Linked DNA regions of Homo sapiens. The protein of the gene in region 2 interacts with the protein of the main gene of each other region in a pairwise test. Each region holds a gene or a part of one and is shown on either strand. Other genes may lie near its edges.

Region 1 (7,830 bases), on a different chromosome or scaffold from region 2:
TTCCACTGGTTTTTCTCAGCCACACCCTCCCTGCTGCCCCAAGGAGGGGCCCTCAGACTCCAGGTACAACAGCCCCAGGTGAAAGCTCCGGCTTGAGTTTACAAAGCAGGAGGCTGGAATTGCAGGCAGGTAAGACCTCAGGTGTCCAGGCCCAGAACTCTTTCAGAGTAGGAGGCACAACCTCAGGCCCTGCAGCAACTCCCAAGCTGAGCCCCACTTTAGAAAAGTCCTCATCGGGACTGACGGGGATCCCAGAACTCTCTCGTCTGCAACTCTGTTACGTATTTGGAAGTAAGGCAAGTATGCTAAAGCACTGCCTTCCTATAAAGAGCCATTTTTAGGAGTGTGTTTCTGTATACTGGTTAATTCCCGGCCCGTTTTTCTCTCCCATCCTTTTCCTCGTCACTAATGAAATATAAAATGCAATGCGGTCTCAGAATCCCTTTACCTTCCTCTGGGCAGCACTCACATCTGATATCACCTGGCTCCCCAAGCCCAGGCCTAGACCAAGACCCCTAGAAGCCAGCATGGCCCTGCATACAACCCTAAGCACCTGAATGAAGAAATGAATGAATGAAAATCTTGAAACTCACCCAAATAGGAATACGGTTTTCTATAGCAGACTGTACTTGGAGACAGTACACAGAAAGATCCCCCCAACAGACCGCCCCCCTCCCCGGGGGTGGGGGGGAATCTAATTTGTTAAAAGCAGCCAAGTGCTGTCAACCGAGCCCTCTGGGATCATCTTTATAGGTGAAATCACCTACTTGTAAAGAGTTACCTTTGATACTTGAATTCCAACCTCCTTCCAAAGGGACCCAAAGAAGCACCAAGCTTTCCACCCAATTCTTCCTTCCAGGAAAACAAGGAATTCCTGGGTGTAATAATGGAATCAGAGGCCTTATATAGACAGTGCTTCCCAGGAGCTGAATCATTCAGGCACTACTGGGACACCCAGATTCCTATCAGGACAAGAGTCTCCCTCAAGCCCCCTCAGAGGACAGTGACATCCGGCATAGAAACCCACAGCTCCCACCTACCAATCCCCCTCTTAGAGCAGACACGACGGCTTTCCCTCAGAATTAACACTGAACCCAGATGGGGGCCGAGCTCGCTCTCCTCACTCCACCCCCACAGGCTCAACCCTATTAGGACCCTCAACCTTGTTTCCAACCCACAAGTAGTTGGAAAACTCCAAAAGCAATCGGCCCGGGGCTGTTCTGGACCTGCTGAACCCTCTGGGGCACCAGGCTCGGTTCCTAGTGCACAGAAGGGCGTCACTAACTATGTGATGCGGACCGCAGGGCACCGGGGTTAAGGCTGAATCTGCCAGGTCCTTTTCCAGGGGCGCAGAACTTCCCTTGTGGCTGGGTCGGCAAAACCGAGGCCCACATCCCAGATAGAGATCAAATCGCCCTCCCCCACCGGGGGACTTCCGAAATTACCTCTCTGGATCTGGAAGCTTAATTAGCTGATTGGCCTCATTAACGTTCGAACTTGAGTTTCAAACGAAAAAGAGGTCACTCAACTATCCAATTTACAACCTCGAATTTCCACCCGAAAACCACTTTATTTTCGGATGGCCTCTGAGGACGCCCAGGCCCCTGCCAGCAGCTGCCAGCCCCCGAGAGCCTTACGTACTTTCGCCTGACCCCCCCACCACCCACCCCTCACCTGCCTGGCTCGAGCGCCTTCTCAGTTCCAGGCGCCCCGAGCCCCTTTAAAAGATCGGCTGCGAAAACCCACGGTCACCTGCACCACCCTTTCTCCCTCTGGGTGCTCCAGCCCCACGGAAAGGCAAGCCTCGCCCACGCGCCCACCCACCTCGAGCAGGGTGTCCGCACGCAGACCCGCCTGGAGGGCGCCGCGCTGCACCCCCACGCCAAGCCCCAGAACCCTGGCGGCGAGGTCCACCCCAGCCCCCGCATCCCCCCGAACCCGGGCGGCGAGGCCCGCTGCGGTGGTCGCACCTGCTGGCTCAGTCCGGCGGCTCCAGCCCAAGTGACGAGTGCGCTGTCGGCGTCTCTGGGAGCGGTCCCCGCGCCTGGCGCCCGGGGCCGGGGCCACCCGGTGGAGGCGCCTGGGCCGCGGGCTGGGCGGGCGGAGCTGCCCGGCCGCCGGGGAGGAGGGATGCCCGGGCGAAAGTTGCCAGGGAAACTTGATCAACTCGAGCGCGCCGGTGCCAGCTTCCTGCATAATTCACGGACGGTGGCGGCCGGGCTGCGCCCGCCGGGTCTCCCTATCCCAGCTGGTGAGCACGGCGGGCCGGGGTCGGGCACCCGGCTGTGGCTCAGCGCGACCCCCGGGACCTGGGCGCCCGACCCGCCACCCCCGGGCCCGCACCAGGCGCGCCGGCCCCGGCCTCTCCGCGACAGCTGCTGCTGCCGCCGCGCGCGCCTGGATGGGAGCTCTGCGTGCAGGGCCAGGGTGACCGCAGCGGGGTCTCGGGGGACCTGGCGGCCACGGTTCGGGTCTCCGCCCCCGCGCGCCACCTGGCGGCCCCGCGCCGGCTCCTCCGCTGGGCTCGCTGGCCCGGGTCCTAGGGCTGGCGGGCGGTGACCCGGGGCAAGGAGACCCCGGGAGAGCGGGGGAGGTCGCGCCACACGCGCTGTTCCAGAGGAAGGGGCAGGACGCGCCAGAGACTACGTGGTCCATGCGCGCAGGAGATAAAGCGGGGGCTCCTTCCTGCGCTCTGCCCCCACGCCGCTTCCAAAGCTTTCGACACCGGCCCCTGCCCGGGAAGAAAGGCATGCAGGGGGAAGGGCTCTCTACGGAAAATCGACCCCCACCTGGACACGCGGCTCACTCCCCCCAGCGCCCACCTCTCCAGCCTCTCTGGGTCCAGGACTGCGCTTACCCGGTAGTTGGTGCTCCCGGAATCGAGATGCCCCCAAAATGCCGTCAGTGAGCAGGATCGGGTGCCCAAGGGCCACCTCCCGTCCTCCCCGGCCCGCGCCCTGCGTCCCCGGCCGCCGCCTCACCTGGCTCGGCGAGTCGGGGGCGGGTCCGAGCCCCCCGGGAGCGCCAGCGTCCGCGCACACCTGGATCGGCCGCGGGAACCCGAGCGGCGCCGCGCCCAGCCCCGCCGGAGCTCAGGAGCCGCCGCCGCGGCTCAGGTGCAGGGGGTGGGGAAGGACCCGGCCCCGCCCGGCGCGGGAGCTGGCTCCGGCGAGGGTGGGGGAGGGGCCCTCTCGCCGCCGAAAGGACGCGTGCGGCCCAGGACCCGCGGGCGACCCGACCTGGACCCCCACCCCCGCCCACGCCGCGGACCTCAGTCCCCCGCCCCGACCCCGCTCCCGCCCGCGGCTGCGGCTCGGGCGTGCGCGTGGGGTCTGTTGTGGCAACCCCGGGAGACCGCGGGGCGCCCTGGCCGCCTCTGCCCCGCCCCGGGCTGCGTGGCTCACGGACCTCCCCCTCCCTGGCCAAAGCCGGCGGACGAGAAAGTCCCTGATTTTTGTAAAGTCCGGTTCGGTCTGCACGGTTATCCCGAACGCAGCTGGCTCCCGCCACAGAGTATTTATAATAATAGGATTTGGAAATAGAGGCTGCCTGCACATCAAAACGTTTGCAGAGCAAACGAAAACTTTGTACCCGGGTGATACGCCGGCGTCTGCTGCCCAGGCCACCAGTTCTGGGGCGCCTTCCGCCCAGGGGTGCACAACGGTATCTCCGCCAGCTGCCCTCCAAGCCAAGAAAAGCCAGGGGGTGGGGTGGGGGGAGCAAAAGCCAACGGCTCGGGTGAATCCCAGAGGCCAAAGGCACCCTCCGGAGACTCCAGGAATCCTGTTATTATCCAGGACTCCGGATTGCTAGGTTTGCGGAAGCCCAAAGGGGCGGGTCCTGAGCTTGGAGCTGTGGCCGCCGTGTGAGCCATCGGCTGATAGATTTTCTCAAGGCCTTAATCATTCACTGGGAGTCTCCCCCAGTACGAGCTGCGTGTTTCTGAGTAAGCTCTTGAGGTCTCTGTGTTCTGAGTTTTCCAGTATTCTGGAAGGTGTGGGTGGGGATCAGAGTCCAAGCTGTGGAGTAGAACTGTCTCCAGAACCCTGGAGCCCGGCATTATGCAAACCCCTAACTGTGCCCCCTACATAGAGTGAGTGTGTGTGTGTGTGTGTGTGTAAGTCAGTCTATCTTACAGGACATGCCTGAGAGGTTTGCATGGGCTGGTGACTTCAACATACCAAAGGCAAAGTTAAATATTTGCTCTAGATACTTTTTTTTTTCAGCTTGCATAATTGTCCCACATTTCAAAGAAGTCTTTAAAAGCACTTAGGTTAAAAAAAAAAAAGTTGTGTTTGGGGCCTGAATATTTCAGGACACACATGGAATAAATATTGTAACTCCTTGAGGGCAGCTGCCTTATGTAAATGTCTTTCTCGTCGCTGCTTCCTTAAGCATACACTTGATAAAATATTTGTTGAATGAATAAAGGAGTCAATCAATCAAAAAATAATAATCCCCAAAACAGGAAGAAGGACGCCCTGACAGGATCCTGCAGGCATCCTTTGTTTGGCATGGAAGCTGGGGTGCCTGGGAGAGGTGTGAGCAGGACAATCGGATGTTCTTTGGGTTGGCCGGTGGCAGATGCAAGACCTGGGTTGCAGGGAGTGGGGGTGGGGGCTCTACCTTTCCATAACAGTCCATCAGTACCCTCCCCACCAAAGAAGGCAAGTCATCTGAATAAAGTGGTGTATTTACCCTGCAAACCCAGCTCAAAGACCTATCCTCAGGATATTTCCCTCCTCTCACCAGATTCCCACCCCTGGAACACCCCTTCCTAGGTTTCTAGAACCACTGCTGCAGATAGACCAGGCAGCTGGTCACAGTTCAATTGTGAACATTTTTCGGCTATCTCCATGCAAGGTTTAAGACCGATGCCATTATGCTATCTCCAAGAAATACTTCCCTAGGGACGCAGGCCTCTGCCAGCCTTCCACCCAAGTGGACACCCCTTGGGCCATCCCCCTCCAGTCTTTCTGATCTGTTAGCCAACAAGAGCGCTGTGTGAGAGCCCCGACATTCGGCATTTTAAGGACAGCATCCTGCTTACGCCCCAGTTTCTTTGTGTCTGTTTAGAGATATCCAGTTCAGCCTTGTGCTCCGATGAAGCAACATCCTTCAAGTCTGTAAAAATCTCTTATGATCCCAAAACAAAGAAAATCAAGGTTACAGGTGATGGATACACTAATTTCCCTAATTTGATCATTACACATTGCATACGTGTATCAACATCTCACACTGGACCCATAAATACGTACAATTATGTGTCAACTAAAAGTATTGACAGCCAAAAAAAAAGGCTCTTATGAAAAGGTTCAGGGTCAGATAATGCTGCCACAGTGCCTTTATTCACATCTTAACGCTCTGAGCGGGCATCTCAGGTTGAGGGGAACACCTACCCCCCGCCGCTCATTTGAAGTAGGACCTCTTTTGGCATTCTAATTTCTGGGGGGCCCATAGCCACACACACCACCAAGTGCCTTGTTTTAGGTTCAGTTTAGGAAAAGAAGACATGACCCTCCTGGCTTCCTGGTTTCAGAACCCTCCGGTTTTGTTTCTGGAAGCTGCCTTCCAGGATTCACCAGGTTTTGCAGAAAGGAGTAAGCTTTTCCATCTGGTCATCTTGTCTTTTTTTCTTGTCCAACCTGAACCATGAAACCATCAGCCACATCTGTGGAGTACACGCTGTGTGGTCCTGAGCACGCTAGGACTTTCTGGGAAGAGTAACTGTTTTATAGAGAACTGGAAACTGGGACACCATACCATCAGGGATGTGAGATATAGCCACCTTTTTGGTCCTGGGGAAAACATTATAAATATTTTGTGGCTTAGATTAACCCAGATGCTCACTGCCTTCAGCAGCAGTCCCTTTCTCCCAGAGAAGCTCCTGGGTTTGGGGCTTAATGTATTAATAGTTGGAGGCCAGCACATCTTCAGAGAATGATTCTTAGACAGCCCGAGTGGGAGTGGCCTAACCCAAGGCAACCCTGTTATTTAACAGGTGGGAAGCTGAGGTCCAAGGAGGGGAGGAGACTCACTCAAGGGCGTGAGGTCAGAACCACACAGGCAGGTGTGCACAGGTGAAGCCAGGTAAAGGCAAGCACACACAGGTGAAGCCAGTTAAAGGCAGGTATGCCCAAGTAAAGGTAGGTGCTCTGGCCAGCAAGTCTGCCACATCCCCTCATCCCTGCCAGATTCTCCCGTGCTTTTGCCATTTTTTTCCTACTTGTTTTCCACTACAGCAAGAGGTCCACTTCCGTCCTGTTCCCGCCCATGTCAAATACTGGAAAATTCACTCATTTCTCCACAATTTTGTGACAACTTCTAATTCAATCACATAAACCTGATGCTGTAAGGATTCCCAGATTTTACATGTCCTCTCACTCCTGTGCAGAAGTGCCTCTCACGTCTCGCCTCTAGCTTACTGTGGATTTTTATTCCTCTCCATTAATTTTCCATGAGCTTATGTGGATGGATTTGCTGAGAAAAGCCTCCTGGGACTTTGAACGTAAGCATCTTGGCTGCCACCTGGGAGATTGGAGGGAGAGTTTGTTTCTCCTGGAATCTGAGCTGATGAGAGGGGATGGTCTGAAGCTTTTCCTGCTGCACTGGAGCGGGAGGATGTGGGGAGCAGCAGGCAGGAGGGAAAGCTGCGGGACAGGGTCTGCCAGGCTTCCCAGCCAGGCCATGAGCTCTTCCCTTGAGGCCCACGTCCGGAACAAGGGTGTCATCCACCTTCTCCCAGGCCTCCCTTGGGGGTGCAGGGCATCCTGTAGGATGGAGGAGTTCATTCCCCGAGGGGCCACTTCCAGTCCTTGTGGAAGCAGAGCTGGGAGGCTGGGAGAGGTTGCTGCTCTGCCTCCCTCCAGCAGGTGAACAGTCCTGCTGGGGCACATTCTCTGGCTTCTAGGAAGGGCCTTTGGAGCCTCCGTTGCTTACAGCAGGGTCCGGGACAAAATACCTTTATTTGGAGATGGCCTCCTTCTGCATCTCCCTTCCGCTGCTCCCTCACTCCTGCTCCCTGGAGTCAACTCTCAAATGGAGGAGCCTGCATCCAAGTCCTTGTTTCAGGGAAAGCATTGAGGGGAAACCCAAAATAATACAGTGCCCCCCCAACCCTTATTACAGGGGATACTTCGAAGACCCCCCAGTGGATGCCCGAAACTGCAGATAGTACTGACCCCGGTATATTACTATTTTTCTATCTCACGATCCGGCCGGGCAGGTAGTGTAGGCTGCATGGAGACACTGGACAAAGGGATGGTTCACATCCAGGGAGGGATGGGGCCGGATGCCCTGAGATTTCATCACACTGCTCAGAACAGCACACAGCTTAAAACTTATTAATTGTTTATTGATGAGATTTTCCATTTAATATTTCCATGCCTTGGTTGACCTGGGGTAACTGAGACCACAGAGAGTAAAACTATGGATAGGGGGCACTACTATATTAAAAACTGTCTTGTGGGCCAGGCACGGTGGCTCATGCCTATAATCCTAGCACTTTGGGAGGCCGAGGCGAGCGGATCACCTGTGGTCAGGAGTTTGAGACCAGCCTGGCCAACATGGCAAAACCCCATCTCTACTAAAAATACAAAAAATTAGCCAGGCATGGTGGCGGGTGCCTGTAATCCCAGCTACTCTGGAGGCTGAGGCACGAGAATCCCTTGAACCTGGGGGGCAGAGGTTGCAGTGAGCTGAGATCGCGTCACTGCACTCCAGCCTGAGTGACACAGGAAGACTCTGTCTCAAAACAAACAGATAAACAAAACAAAACAAAACAAAACAAACAGGAAAAAAACCTGTCTTGTGTCATGGGTCAGGACGCCT
Region 2 (4,916 bases):
TTTATGAGAATGGAGGGTATTTTATTTAAAATGAAAACATCAGTTTTATGTGCACCCTTTCACAGTCTACAACTTCAACCTTCTTTGCCTAAAAATCCTTTGTGGTCTAGACGCCATTCTTTCCTGCTGCATTTTTTTTAATGCCAAAGAGATGACTGTCTTTTGTTTTTGCAGTGGCATTGAAAATATCCGCCCATTTCATAGTTTGCTGCTGATAAGAGGAATGACCTCTTTCATCCTGTGTCAACTTTTCATGGCACAGTTTCTGCCCCTGTGATTGGAATTGCTTCCTGGGCCACCACAGTTATCCCGAGGCCCCTAGTCAGAGTCACCTTGGAACTGACTTAATTAACTCTCGAGTGTAGGAAATATCAATGGCCTCCCTCTCCCGTGACCCTGTATATTGTATATTGCTTGTGTGTTCGTGTGTGGTGTGCAAAAGGGTCTAACCTGGTGTAGCACCAACAAAGCTAAAGAACACAATCTGATATCTCTTCTTCCTCCTCTGTTTATTTAGGTTTGGTGGGAAGGGGACGGTGGGCGGGCCGGGGACAGAGCGGAGATGTTTTTAAGCTCTGAACCAAGCTTGCACCCGGTGACTTGCATCCTTAGAGGGGATGCAGGGGTTCTAAGATGCTGCTGCAGCCGCTGCTTCCTGGCCCATCTCTGGCACCAGGAGGAGTCTGGAGTCTCCAGAGAGAACCGCACTCAATGTGCTGGGAGCCGCAGGCTTTCCGCAGGGGGCCTTTAAAATACCCACTTCCTTCCCTTGGAGAGACCTAGTTCTGCAACCCAGCCTTACCCTGGGCCTTAAGCTTACCGGGATTTTTTTTTTTCTGCATCTTTTGAATGCCCAAGCCAGAATAATGAAGAAAAAAGTAGATATGCAGTGTGCAGATCAGAACTAACCACCCCTAGGTAAAAAACTGTGTGTTCTAACTACTGACCTATCCCAGTTTTTCCCAAGCTTGTCCTGAGAAGCTGTGTAATGTCCTGAACCTTCTGCTTTGATCAGGAGAGAAGGGCCCCTCCTCCAGTGCCAAAGAAGCCGGCGAAGGGCCCCGCGCCGCTGATCCGGGAGCGCTCGCTGGAGAGCTCGCAGCGCCAGGAGGCCCGCAAGCGCCTGATGGCCGCCAAGCGCGCCGCGTCCGTCCGCCAGAACTCGGCCACCGAGAGCGCCGAGAGCATCGAGATCTACATCCCCGAGGCGCAGACCCGGCTCTGAGCGCCCCGCAGCCCGGCCGCCGCCGCCAAGCATCTGTCCCCTCCTCCCCCGGCCGCTCCTCTGCCGGCTGCCTCTCCCCCTCCGAGCCCGTCCGCTCCCGAGCTCGGTGACTTCCACTGTCGCGGTGTAGTTGTCCACCTCGCAGGAGCCGCCCCCCGGGCCCCCCTCAGCCCCCCACTTCCCGTACCCGTTTGCCCATCTCCTTCTTCACCGAGCTTCGCCCCCTGTCCTGATGCCGTCGCCCTGCCTCATACTGAGATCCAACCCTTTATTTTCTGGGCAAAGCCAAACCCACCTGTGTAGAAGTGATGCCTTTAGGTCACCCGCCGTCCTCAGTTCTCTCGAGCTAGTCTGTTCAGCAATATAAAACCATAGGGTATTTCAGAAATCCAGTATCACAGGGTGATCCTTTGGGACTTACCGTCTTCCACGTGAAAGAAACTAGGCCTCCGATTCCCTTTATTTCCCCTAAATGGTTATTCTTTTAAAAAAGCAGATGGAGCACTTTATTCCCAACCTCAGAAATCACACCATCTCACTGGAATCCATGAGGGACACAGAGAGAGGGGACCAAGCCTGGCCTGGGGGTGGGGGACCTGGATGTGTAGCAAGGATGGGAGAAGCGAAATCTGCAGGTGCTGGGGGCACCTGCACACTCACAGCTGCACAAACTGCCTCACTGTTACTTCATCAATCACAGCTTCAAATGTCTCAATCAGCAGAAGATTGTAAATTCGATCTTTCAGGGAAATTAATCTATTCTGAAAGGCAATAACATGAAGCAAGGCAAAGGAGGCACTGATGGTTTAGTATACTACATAAGGGATTTTTTTGTTCTATTATTAAGAAAATCTAGACCTGAAATGTTTTCTCAACTCTTATTGTACTGTGTATATTTATATTGTTGTCGTGGCGGCTGTTTTTAAAGGGAAAGTGTTGGTTCTATTAATTTGTTAAGTGTCCATCCAGGTGGGCCTACCTGATTCCACATATATAAGTACATATCTGCTTATAAAGCGCTGTAAATGGCAGCAAGGCTGTTTTTGGAGAAGAGTTTGGGTTTTCCTACCATCCCTTTGAATGCTACACATCCGTCTATTTTAACCCAAGTAGTTCGTATTTCAGATATATTTTCTCCTTTCATCTCCTCTCACTACTGCAGAGTCCAGTAATACCTAGCATAGGATTCTGTCCTGTGTCAAATGGCTAAAATAAATTTTTGCCCCAATAGACATGCTGCCTCATTCAAAAGAGCTGCCGCTGTCATCTTGAGGTTCCAGGTAGTGAGAGAAGAAACTCGACCTGCCAGGGTCAACAGCCATGAAGAGGTGGGGGGAGTCATGATTCATAAACACTGAAAGAAGTCAAGGCTTTTGGCAGAGAGTGTTGATTTAGATTTTTAGTCTTGATTGATGGGCAGTATGCATCGGTGTCTAGCTGAAGTTGTCTTTAAATGCCCTTACTCGTCACAGTTTAAACACTTAGGATGTGGCAATCTTAAGTATCAATGGCATTTTATGTCCAGCTAACATCCTAAAGCATTAGAAATTAAAAACGAAAGACTTTTAAAAACATACATCAAACATGCTTGCACCAGAGAAGCTTTTTAAAATAATACACTCTCATAGCCAGGTGCTAATTTAATTTTACTTATGAAATTAAGAGAGGTGATGGGTTCTAGCAACAGATATTTTCACGGACATATTCTAAAACCACTAGAGAATTCGCTACCTCTCAGAGCCATCGATGCTTTGAGCTACCTTTATAAACAGGGCACAAATGTTTACTGCTGTGGTTTACAAGAAAAGGGCTACTCACTTATTTTGAAACCAACGAACCAACTTTTAACTAGGGTGAACAAAGCACTCAAAGTGCTTTGTGAAATTGGAGCATACAGAGATTTTGAGCTTCAAGTATTTGCTAGTTTTAAAAAGAATACACCTTTTCTTTACCTTGTAGCAGCAATTAAAAGTCACACAAAGCTTGCATCGAGTAGGGCCAACTGCCACTTGGGTAGCCTATGGTCACATTCAATACTGAGAATGACTTGGAACTCACAGATTAATATGAAAGAAGCAGCGTTCATCCCAAGACCCATGCTCACAATTACAGCTCCGTGCCCTGAGGTAGAGTTGAGATTTGGATTAAGAAATAGATTTCTAATACGACTCAAGATCATCCTACAATATTTTCTTTGGAAACTAATTTAGCCCATGATATTTTAAAGAGAGACAAGAGAAGGCCTATTTATCTTGTCTAAGTGAACGGCATTTGTATATTCATAAGCTATTTTTGGTAAGAATTTTAAATCTTTTAGCTCAAGGCCTACAGGGCATCATGATCTTTGCCTTCCTTGAAAATACAATTTAAATTGTACAAACACTTTATAAAAAGCTAATTATTGGTGTTAGAACATGACCCCACACAATGCTGCTTGACCCCTGAAACTGACATTCATGAGCATAACCTTTGTTACATTGTTCTTTTTGATGTAATTTGTAGAAATGTTTTTTAGTTCGTAATGGAAAATGTATGTACCCTGAAAAATTACTTATTTTGTTTAACTTTGGTATAAAGGTGTTGGGCATTTTCTTGGGGAGGGGGGGATTACAAAAGAAGTTTGTCTCCCACATCAAAAAACGTTCAAAGAAATTAAGTATTTATTATATTTTTTGCAGATGTTTCCATACAATTCACATAACCTTTTTGTAAAGAGAGATGAAGAAATGGATTAAAGATTTTTAATATTTGAAATGGTAAATAGAACTAATTTATTGTAATATATTTCTGTTATTTATAGATGTTTCCTTAATGTTTTACTGTGCATTACCACTTTCATTTAAGCCTTATCCTTGTGAATTTACCATTTCTTTTTTAAAACATGTCTAGATGCATATTTTAAATAACTGGAATGTAAATCACTAGCATATCTGAATTCCCAAATGTAATTTTTAAAAATTATTTTGGTTTGGAAAAAAAAGATTCATTTGAAAGCCTTCAGATGGAGGGGTGGGAACATTTTTATGGCTTTATGAATTGGAATTTCATAGGCTTATTTACCTAGATTGTGTGTGAACAAAAAAATATTGTAAATAGATGAATGTTTCCCATAATGTAAAAAGAAGAAATTAATAAAATAATTAATGCACTGCTTTCAGGTCTGTGTGTTTTTACTAGAGTCCCACTTCTTCCAAAATATGCTTTATTGTCTTTTGACGGGAATACTTCTGCAATTAAGAAGCGTATCATTCTAACTTTCACTGTACAGCACGTGTGCTATTCGTTGTTGATGACGTAGGGAGAACTTACATCCTGTTTAAAGGGGTTTCAATACCGAAGAACTAAAAAGTCCTTTTACTCTGATAATCCCACTCGTGAAGTTTCAGTTCAGAAGCTGAGAATAACTGTCTATCTTATGAAGGAGTGATGAGCCTTTCAAATGTGCAAATTCATGTCAGTTTTACCTACTTTGATTTCTTTGCATACATTTCATCCACTTTGTTTCCTACACAACTCTCAAGTGTAGGGAAAATCAGAAAAATGCTTTGTGGCTTCCATTCCATCCTTGCAATAATGAAAAACTGTGCCTCACTGAGGTTTAGTGACTTGCCCAATGTGCCACAATGATTAAAAGACAGATCTGAGTCCAGAACCCAAGGCTTTATTGAGCTCCTTTAGTGCCGTCTCTGTC

The links.
Region 1: the proteins of DLGAP1 (region 2) and SHANK2 interact in a two-hybrid assay, tested with the Homo sapiens proteins (one study listed by BioGRID).

Annotation. Positions count from the first base shown.
Region 1 is NC_000011.10:71,249,444-71,257,273, forward strand, and holds the start of SHANK2 (SH3 and multiple ankyrin repeat domains protein 2), read right to left. Parts: upstream 3,135-7,830; 5' UTR 2,982-3,134; exon of another isoform or gene 2,858-2,981; intron 2,430-2,857; exon of another isoform or gene 1,971-2,429; intron 1-1,970. UniProt on the Homo sapiens protein: Seems to be an adapter protein in the postsynaptic density (PSD) of excitatory synapses that interconnects receptors of the postsynaptic membrane including NMDA-type and metabotropic glutamate receptors, and the actin-based cytoskeleton.
Region 2 is NC_000018.10:3,495,494-3,500,409, reverse strand, and holds the end of DLGAP1 (disks large-associated protein 1), read left to right. Parts: intron 1-1,015; coding exon 1,016-1,225; 3' UTR 1,226-4,378; downstream 4,379-4,916. UniProt on the Homo sapiens protein: Part of the postsynaptic scaffold in neuronal cells.